Homo sapiens: one gene and its partners. The protein of the gene in region 1 interacts with the protein of each later gene in a pairwise test. Each region holds a gene or a part of one and is shown in the gene's direction. Other genes may lie near its edges.

Region 1 (3,658 bases):
GTCTGAAAGTGATCACAGTTGAAAAAAAAAAAAAAAAGGATATTTGAAATCAGCAGGAGACTCCCAAATCAAGAAAGGCTAGAAAAGAGGAAGGGGGTTTGGAATATACATGATATAAATCAACAGACAGTGGTTAAATAGATATCAAGAGGCTCTAGTTCTAGTCCTGGCTTTGCCACTATGCAGGTGTGTGTCCCATGAGCACATCATGTAACTCTCGTGGGCTTTAGTTTTCTTGTCTATAAAATGAGGGAGTTGGTCTAGATGCTCTCTAGAGTCCCTCTAGTACTTACATTTCGCAACTCTTAGAACATCAAGCCATTACATTTTTTCCTCAGCAAGAATATGCTGTCTTCCCAAGGATTTATGACAATTTACCCTCTGGGATAAGGAGGGAAAATTGAAGTTGTATACTTGAAATTCTCAGCTCCTGAAAATATGTGTCGCAGCCAGACAAACCTGTGACCCCTCTGTGGCTGAGTCAGTGGCTCCGTGTCTTGTGCGGTAGTGGTGAAGTGCTCCAGGAGTGAGGATCCCTGGGGCCCCTCGGGGCAGGAGCTGAGCAGTGAGCCTTTATGGAGCTGCACATCTGCAGTTTGTCACAGCCCTGACTTCTGGGACTTACTTGTCTACAACCAGTCCCCTGTGCACATTGGAGGCTTCACCTCTGATTGAGACTACATTTTTCAGAAGTTGGATAGAAACAAGAAAGGGGATTTAGCATGGTGGTTAGAAGGGACTAGTCTTGTTACAGTGAGAAAGATCCACTTCTTACTTGCTCAGATGGTTTGATTTGTCCTCAGAGAAGTTAAACAACTGACAGAGTTGCTCCTCTGAAAACATTTTGTATGAATACTTTAGGTTCATAGGGAACTCGTCAATCCATATCTCATAGAATAGAGGGACTTTTCATTCAAGTCTAATTTTTACATATAGACAATCTACCAGTGTTCAGAAATTGTGGCAGATTTCATGAGGAGAATTTTTTACTTGGATTTGTGCTCTTCTATAAAAAGTAATTTAAAAATTCAGTGATGAAAGTTTCTCCTAGACCCTGTTCTCTTCCTTTGTGGAGAAAAAAAATCCGTATAGAACTCTAGTATGTATTTATCTATAAAACAATTGTTTAAAAATATTGAGGTTAGCTCTTCCCCTTTGCTAATGCAATAAGCACATTATTTGCAAAGGGAAGCATTAATTATACTACTATTGTATGCAGTATTAAATGAATTGTCAATGTCACGATCAAAATAAACCCTTGAAGAACTGGCTGTTGTTCCCATACCTTCATGAGAATTGTAAACACTCATGTAAAATAGAAACCATTATTTACCACTTTGCAGTGAAATGGATCATGTGTTCTGACACCTGTACCCTGAGTTGAGTGGGAAACAGGGACTGTTTGATGAATTAAAGGTAACTTTATTCCTGTATACCACTAGGGGTGCAAGTGAGGGGACTGTAGACAATTAGTACTTTAGATATTTGTTGGAGTCCTGCTGTGTGTGCAGTATTGTGTTTCATTTTGCATACTTATTTAAAACGATACTACTTATTTGAAATGATTCATTTTAGTTCATTTTAACCAACATTTTTTAGTCCCCTACTCCATATCAGACTGATAGGCCTTATGGCCAAAAAGATGACTTCCTCCAGGGATACTTACTGTCTGTGTTAGATTCAGTAATGGGAGTCTCGGTCTTTAAGGAATCCATGATACATTTTTCAGTCTGGTTGGGAAAGATAAGACACATGAGGTAGAGAAGATTGTCCTAGAAATGTTGGTATATAAATAAGCATGTAACATTGTTTCATAAGTATTAAGGATGAGCTATAAAATAACTAGGTTGTAGCTCATACTTCTACTTGCTTAATTGTGTATTACATGATAAATTACCCGATTCTAGAGATATGCACTAACCACTCTCATTAGCTTTCTTTGGGAAAAGTCTGCACCAAAGATAAATAGTGATTTCAAAATAAGTTTTAATCATGAACTTGATTATTTTGGCTGTATCTCTTGAAACACTTTACCATATAGCCTATGTGAAATAATTAATCATAATGACAATACATGATTTATGAGAAACCATAATTTATGCTGTAAGACCTGCCATTTTATTACATTCTTATTTTTATTTTTCATGCAGCAGTATTTTCGTTTATTGTGTTTTGTGCTTTTCTTTTATTCTCTATGTAATTTGTGTGCCTTTATAAGCCCAAACTTGCTGTTGAAAATATTCCCTCCCATTGTTATGAATAAACAGAATGTTTCAAAATCTCTCGTGATGTATGCTAGAATAAATGGTCTCATTGAATCTTACTTTGAATCTCAGAATGATGCACTGATGGGAATTTTTCACTTACTGTCATTTTGTCGACAACTACATAAGCAGTAAGTCTGTTTAAAAAAGGCACTGACTAAGGAATCACAAAATCCAACTGGACTTCACAAGAACTATTAATACTATTAGTCTGAGACCTGTGATAAACAACTCAGATGTTAAAGGTCTAATTCAGACTGTCAACAGATGAAAAATAAGTGTCAGTCTGAAATCTTCGGATAGTATATCGGCAAGTGTCAGTCTTCCAAAATATTATTTAGAACTGTGAATATAATTTTTCACAGAAGCAACATTAATCCATAAATCTCCCGTCCTGTAGTGTAACTATAGTATATCAGTTCCATGGGAAAATAGTCCTGCTCTAAGCTACTCAACAGCAGGGACTTTATCTTTCTACAGGACTTAAATCTTGACCTCCAGTGGTTCTACATACCTTAAGTGAATGAATGAGTTTGAATTCTAGTTTTGAACACCTTCACCTGCTACTCTTGGATAATCGTGTCTGTTTGTGCCTAGTACCTATCCTCTGTCCTTTTGTAAACTGGTCTGAGACCCTGATACCATTTATCCTGCATGTTTCAAAGGAAAAAACTATTTAGACTTTAAAAAAATGCTTTTCTAATACAACTTGCTAGATAAATAATTCATTATACCAAATTCCTTAGTAAAGAAATTAACGGCTGGGTGCAGTGGCTCACACCTGTAATCCCAGCACTTTGGGAGGCTGAGGCAGGTGGATCACTTGAGATTAGGAGTTCAAGACCAGCCTGGACAACATGGTGAAACCCCATCTCTACTAAAAATACAAAAAAAAAAAAATTAGCCAGGCGTGGTGGCGGGCGCCTGTAGTCCCAGCTACTTGGGAGGCTGAGGTGAGAGAATCACGTGAACCCGTGAGGCAGAGGTTGCAGTGGGCAGAGATTGCACCACTGCACTCCAGCCTGGGTGACAGAGCGAAACTCCATTTCAAAAAGAAATTAATTAGAAGATTTTAAACAGATTGGTTCATATTCATTTTAAACTTAATTGCCTGGATTATAACCATAGTGAGATGAGTTTTCATAATGCTCTTTATCATACTACTAATAGGCACCAATCAAGCACCAAGACTAAGCTAAGCTTTGAAAGTGTGATATTGAGCAAACTTTCTGTATCTGTACCTTTTGTGAATCAGTAATATCTTTGTATACTCAGTTGAAGAGTTAAGACAGAAGTAGATATAATTTAAAGCACATGAAGTTTTTCAAAGGGGAAATGTTACAAAAATGCTAAGGGTTATTGGTACTATAAAATTACATAAATGTTAAGAGTAA
Region 2 (3,658 bases), on another chromosome or scaffold:
TCGGCCTCCCAAAGTGCTGGGATTATAGGTGTGAGCCACCGTGCCTGGCCTTATTATGTTTTTCAAATACAATGGATGTTGGTTTAAATATAAAGTTCCTTAAGTTTGTATTTGGATATAGAGACAAAATAATTTACTTTGAAATGGAAAGAATTGACTGCAGTAGGGAGTTTGGGCACATCTCTGCACTGGAAATTGTCCTTAGGAGACAAATTTGATATACTCAGCTGTGTGCTCTAGCGGTGGAAAACTGAGAAGGCTCCATCCATTTCTAGTGAGTGAATGGATTTGATCACTAGTGAGAAGAATTGCGGAGATTTTCTGAGAGACTTTCAGCAATGCAAGAGAACATAAGGACGTTTTACTTCTAGATGTGAAGAAAATGACTGAAACTTTAGAAATATGAGACAGATTTAGTTGAACATTAGATTGTTGGGGGGAGTGTAACTTACCATCAAAATCCTGTTTAAATTGCAAATTTATAGTGGTTAGAAGCCATGTGATGTGTATCATACTGCTTTCTATATATGGCATTCAGTAACTCAGTATTAATGTAAATGAGGATTATGACAGTTGTGATGGAAAAATTTAAACTTGACATTCATTCAGAATTGTTTGTAGTATAGCACAATTACGTAATTGAGCAATTAAGATTCTTTTTCTTACGTTCTCCAGGACTAACATGTTTCCAGCCAGAGGCAGATCAGATGGTTGAAAAAGTGATCGGATGAATGTGGTAGGGGTTTTGGGAGGCATCTCGATGGCTGGCCTTGCAGATTTCTCCTCTCCATCCAGGCCTGCACCTCTCGCTTCCTCAAGTGGAGAAGGTTCCAGGCCAACGGCCATCTTCATTCCTAGCCGGGACTCTTGTCCTGAATCTCCATCTGTTCTTCTCCCTTAATGGGGTGGGTCAGCAGTGGATGAAGACCCATCTTAACTCAAGCCCGTAGTAGAAACAGCTGTTAAGTTGCCTCCTGTCAGCAGTGGATGGGCTGGGTCAGCAGTGGATGAGGACCCATCTTAACTCAAGCCCGTAGTAGAAACAGCTGTAAGTTGCCTCCTGTCCTACCTAGGCCTCCCTCAGCCCTCTGAGATCAGATGGAGCACTTTCTGCAGGCAGCAGACCCTGCTGAGTCCTCTTGGCCAATCTGAAAAATAGGAGCCTCTGGCCTCTGTGCTGTCCTGATGTCTGCTGCTGTGTTTGTCTAGGTCCTGTGCCTGTTCCTGAGCTCCCTTCCACCTGGGCTTGGCAGGTACAGAGAGGCGGGGAGCAGCATTTGGTAATGACTAGTTCAGCCCTGTCCACCTGCAGACGGGCATTTATTTCTTTACCATCCCTCAGAGTTCCATGGGCTGTTTACATATGAGGGTGAAAAAGTAATATGTGTACAAAATTCAAAAATTCAAATGATACCAAAGGACAGAGTGAACAGTTAAACTCTCAGCCCCCCTCCCACCCCTCGCTGCTGTTTACCTTCTCAAGAGGCAGCCGCTGTTTCCAGCAGTTTGCCGTGTAGGGCTCATGGCTGGTGCCCACCAGGCAGGCAGGTGCCCCACACGTGCATGCTTCTTAGGGGGTGTTTGCACAGCACCAAATGCTGCTGGGCTCCATGGGGTGGCATGTTGTGGGGTGAATTGTCCCATCTTCTTTTCTGGATTTTTAAAAATACTTTTAAATATGGAGATGAAACAGTTGTCTTATTATTTTGTTTAAAAGACATTTTTCTGCTTAGAGTTCCACTCAGGTGTTTCTGAAGTCTTGAATCCTTTTATAGAGATGTCTCATACATAAGGTGATTTTAGAGATGGGTGTGCCCAAGCTCTTGATTTTGACTTATTTCAATTCTAAACTCCCTTATTTATTACTAAATCCAAAATCTGTTACCCTTGCAGGTCATATAATCTTTGCAATTTGGAATCTGTTTAAGTGAAAGATACATGTTAGAATATGTTTGAGATTTTGGTATAGTTCTGATATGTGTTAAATTCCTAGAATTTTATTTAAATTTTAAATGCTTTTAATAGGGTTAAAAGTTGTATGGATTGAGTTAAGTAAAATCTATTTTTACTGATTTCCATGACCATAAGAAGTTGGTTTCAAATTTTTGTTGCTTGAGCATGTTGAACAAAATTCATTGTATAATGTGTATCTCTTGTTGTATTCAGTGCCCTATAGGATATTAAAAAAATAACTTACTCTGCTTGGTGGGCATCTGCTGGTCACCGTCCTTCTCCTACTCCTCAGCGTACACAGAACTCTCAGCTTATTCCCTGTCATTGTGAAGCAGAAAGAGCTAGAAGACAAATAGTCTGGTTTGAATTCTTTTTTTCTAGCTTGAAATATTTTTGTGTCCCCCATGAAGACTCAGTCATTTTTGAGGAAGCATCATTTCCCAGCTCTAATGATGAGTCCTTAGTTGGGAGGAACATCACCATTTAAACAGCCCCGGTGGTGTCTTAGCTGGCCTCCTTTTCCATAGCATGCCAGTGCACATAGCAAGTTGACAGTGGAGCGAAAGGCTCTTGGACTCACAGCTTGGGTCATGCTGCTTTCATCTGGAAGGTGATCCACTGAGAACCTTTGTTTACTAGACTCTGGGCTGTAAGACAAGAGGAAATGGGAAGTGGCAGCTGTGGCGAGAAGGTTTGAGGTGAGGCTGAGCCCGATTACCAGATGCCTTCACCACCTGTCATTCCTCAGTGCATTCCTGGGCCAGGAGAGGGTCTGCGGAGCTGATGCAGGCGATGGGCAGTGGAGTGGTGCCGCAGCACGGTGCAGGGAGCACCAAGGCTTAGCTACCAGGTGTGCACAGGACTCCCATGCCCTGCTCTGGCAAACACATCAGCCGTCTGAGTCTTTGTCACTTTAATTCGTTAGTTTACTCCATTTTACTGATGTAGTTTCAAATTTTGGTGGTCTCAATATATGAATTTACTTTACGATATTGGCGTTACAAAATAAATACAAAAGAAAATGCAGTATTGTTTTTGCAGTTTCCAATCATTTGCTGTGTCTACTTAGTTGAATATTGTTAATAAATAGGATATGCCATTCTCTTGACTAAGAAATTATCATTCATCTGTTTCAGGAACTGTTGATAATGTTTCACCTAACTTTTGTTTTGTAGATCTTACAGACTCTTTCAGCACCTACGAAAAATTTAGAACAGCAGGTGAATCACAGCCAGCAGGGACATACAAATGCCAATGCAGTGCTGTTTAGCCAAGTGAAAGTGACTCCAGAGACACACATGCTACAGCAGCAGCAGCAGGCCCAGCAGCAGCAGCAGCAGCACCCGGTTTTACACCTTCAGCCCCAGCAGATAATGCAGCTCCAGCAGCAGCAGCAGCAGCAGATCTCTCAGCAACCTTACCCCCAGCAGCCGCCGCATCCATTTTCACAGCAACAGCAGCAGCAGCAGCAAGCCCATCCGCATCAGTTTTCACAGCAACAGCTACAGTTTCCACAGCAACAGTTGCATCCTCCACAGCAGCTGCATCGCCCTCAGCAGCAGCTCCAGCCCTTTCAGCAGCAGCATGCCCTGCAGCAGCAGTTCCATCAGCTGCAGCAGCACCAGCTCCAGCAGCAGCAGCTTGCCCAGCTCCAGCAGCAGCACAGCCTGCTCCAGCAGCAGCAGCAACAGCAGATTCAGCAGCA
Region 3 (2,535 bases), on another chromosome or scaffold:
CTCCTTAGCTTGCCAAGCACAGTGGCTCATGCCTGTAATTGCAACATTTTGGGAGGCCAAGGCAGGAGGACCACTTGAGGCCAGGAGTTTGAGACAGCCTGGGCAACATAGTAAGACTGCATCTCTACAAAATTTTAAAAGGCCAAGCACAGTGGTTCATGCCTGTACTATCAGCACCTTGGGAGGCCAGGAGTTCAAAACCAGCCTGAGCAACAAAGCAAGACCTTGTCTGTACAAAAGAAAAATGAAAAATTAGCTTGATGTGGTGATGCTCATCTGTAGTCCCAGCTACTCAGGAGGCTGAGGCGGGAGATCGCTTGAGCCCAGCAGTTTGAGGTTATAGTGAGGTATGATTGTGCCACTACATTCTAGCCTGGGTGAGAGAGTAAGACCTTGTCTCTTAAAAAAAAAAAAAAGGAAAACAAATATATATAAAAGAAAAAATTCTCCTTAGTCACAACCAGGCACAACTTTACACATGAATCTCAATTTGCATCTTCATCCCCGAGGGCCTAGAGGCCCACGTGTGCTGATTTTTGGTTGGATGGGCTGTACAGGGTATTTGAGATGTGTAGTCTTGCTTCACTGTGGGCTTCTAGATCCCACTTTGGTAGAGATATCTGGCCATATACCTTGCTGTAGTTTGTTGGTGGTCTATCTTGTATACCTTTTCTTGCTTTTCAGTTTAATGGCTGAGAAATAAGTATGGTGGGGGCCATTCCCTGGGTTCAGAACTACTATAAAGATCAGAAAGGGTGTCTTATTTTAATTTCTGTCAAAGTCCTTTATCACCTGGAGGACAAAGTAAACCTGGAGGGGTGATGTGGATTTATGTCTTGTGTGGCTGATGATGGTGGATGTTTTCAGGTCTCTCTGAAGAGGCTATCATGGAGCTGAACCTGCCGACTGGTATTCCCATTGTCTATGAATTGGACAAGAACTTGAAGCCTATCAAGCCCATGCAGTTTCTGGGGGATGAAGAGACGGTGCGCAAAGCCATGGAAGCTGTGGCTGCCCAGGGCAAGGCCAAGAAGTGAAGGCCGGCGGGGAGGATACTGTCCCCAGGAGCACCCTCCCTGCCCGTCTTGTCCCTCTGCCCCTCCCACCTGCACATGTCACACTGACCACATCTGTAGACATCTTGAGTTGTAGCTGCAGACGGGGACCAGTGGCTCCCATTTTCATTTTAGCCATTTTGTCGCCTGCACCCACTCCCTTCATACAATCTAGTCAGAATAGCAGTTCTAGAGCACAGGTTCTCAGTCTAAGCTATGGAAAAGCTCCCCTTATCCAACAGAGTTTAAAAGTAGTGACTTGGGTTTTTGCGAGTGCTTTGTTTACTAAGGACTTTGGGGAGGAACCATGCTAAGCCATGACCAGTGAGGAGAAGCAACAGAGCCTGTCTGTCCCCATGAGCGGAGTCTGTCCTCTGCTCTTCTGCAGTCAGGTCACTGCCTACTGCCTGGGGGCTCTAGTCATTCCAGTGGAAGACGAATGTAACCTGCGTGGTGATGTGACAACTGTTTCCTCCCTGACCCCAGAGGATCTGGCTCTAGGTTGGGATCAATCCTGAATTTCGTTATGTGTTAATTTACTTTTATTAAAAAAGTATAGTATATATAATACAAAACAATAACCCTTCTGGGGTTTCTTGTGGCGGTTGAAATAGTCCCACATGTGGTCATCAGAAAATAAGCCATTCCTCATACCAATATAGGATCAGCTCCTTGACCTCTGAGGGGCAGGAGTGCTTCCTGGTGTGTGTATTAGAATCCCTTCCTGCCTTGTTTCATGGCAGTGAAATGCCTCTTGGTCCTGTCCAAGTGTATCTTTCACTGATTTCTGAATCATGTTCTAGTTGCTTGACCCTGCCACATGGGTCCAGTGTTCATCTGAGCATAACTGTACTAAATCCTTTTTCCATATCAGTATAATAAAGGAGTGATGTGCAATAGCTTCTTGTGTGATGTGGAAGACCTTATCTGAGGAAACTTTAGCATTTAACTTGAAATGTCTCTCACTGCCCTAGTCCTTGTGTGGCAGTTTGTTTTAGGACATCCAGTCACAACTTTACACGGTTGGTCAAAAAATGACGCATCTCCTTGGGGTTTTCACGTCAGCCTGGTGAGCTGAGGTGGTGGTGGGAGGCCCTCCTGGCCAAGCCCTCCATTCACGTTGCCCCCTGCAGCTCTTGCTTGGTGCTCCCCTGATTGGAAAGTCACATTCTGAACTCCATTATATCCTCTTTAGAGTAAGTAAAGTCTGCTTTTTGTTTTTTCTTTTTGAGACAGCCTCGCTCCGTCGCCCATGCTTGAGTGCAGTGGCATGATCTCAGCTCACTGCAGCCTCCCCCTCCTGTGTTCAAGCAAGCCTCCCACCTCAGCCTCCTGAGTAGCTGGGACCACAGGCATGTGCCACCATGCTTGCTTAATTTCTGTATTTTTAGTAGAGACGGGGTTTTGCCAAGTTGCCCAGGCTGGTCTCGAGCCAGTTTTGGCCTCCCAAAGTGCTGGGATTACAGGTGTGAGCCACCGT

The links.
Region 2: the proteins of PKP4 (region 1) and PAXIP1 interact in a two-hybrid assay, tested with the Homo sapiens proteins (one large-scale study listed by BioGRID).
Region 3: the proteins of PKP4 (region 1) and PGAM1 interact in a two-hybrid assay, tested with the Homo sapiens proteins (one large-scale study listed by IntAct).

Annotation. Positions count from the first base shown.
Region 1 is NC_000002.12:158,463,392-158,467,049, forward strand, and holds part of PKP4 (plakophilin-4), read left to right. Parts: intron 1-3,658. UniProt on the Homo sapiens protein: Plays a role as a regulator of Rho activity during cytokinesis. May play a role in junctional plaques.
Region 2 is NC_000007.14:154,968,597-154,972,254, reverse strand, and holds part of PAXIP1 (PAX-interacting protein 1), read left to right. Parts: exon of another isoform or gene 1-1,048; intron 1,049-2,166; exon of another isoform or gene 2,167-2,201; intron 2,202-3,128; coding exon 3,129-3,658.
Region 3 is NC_000010.11:97,431,488-97,434,022, forward strand, and holds the end of PGAM1 (phosphoglycerate mutase 1), read left to right. Parts: intron 1-867; coding exon 868-1,037; 3' UTR 1,038-1,957; downstream 1,958-2,535. UniProt on the Homo sapiens protein: Catalyzes the interconversion of 2-phosphoglycerate and 3-phosphoglyceratea crucial step in glycolysis, by using 2,3-bisphosphoglycerate. Also catalyzes the interconversion of (2R)-2,3-bisphosphoglycerate and (2R)-3-phospho-glyceroyl phosphate.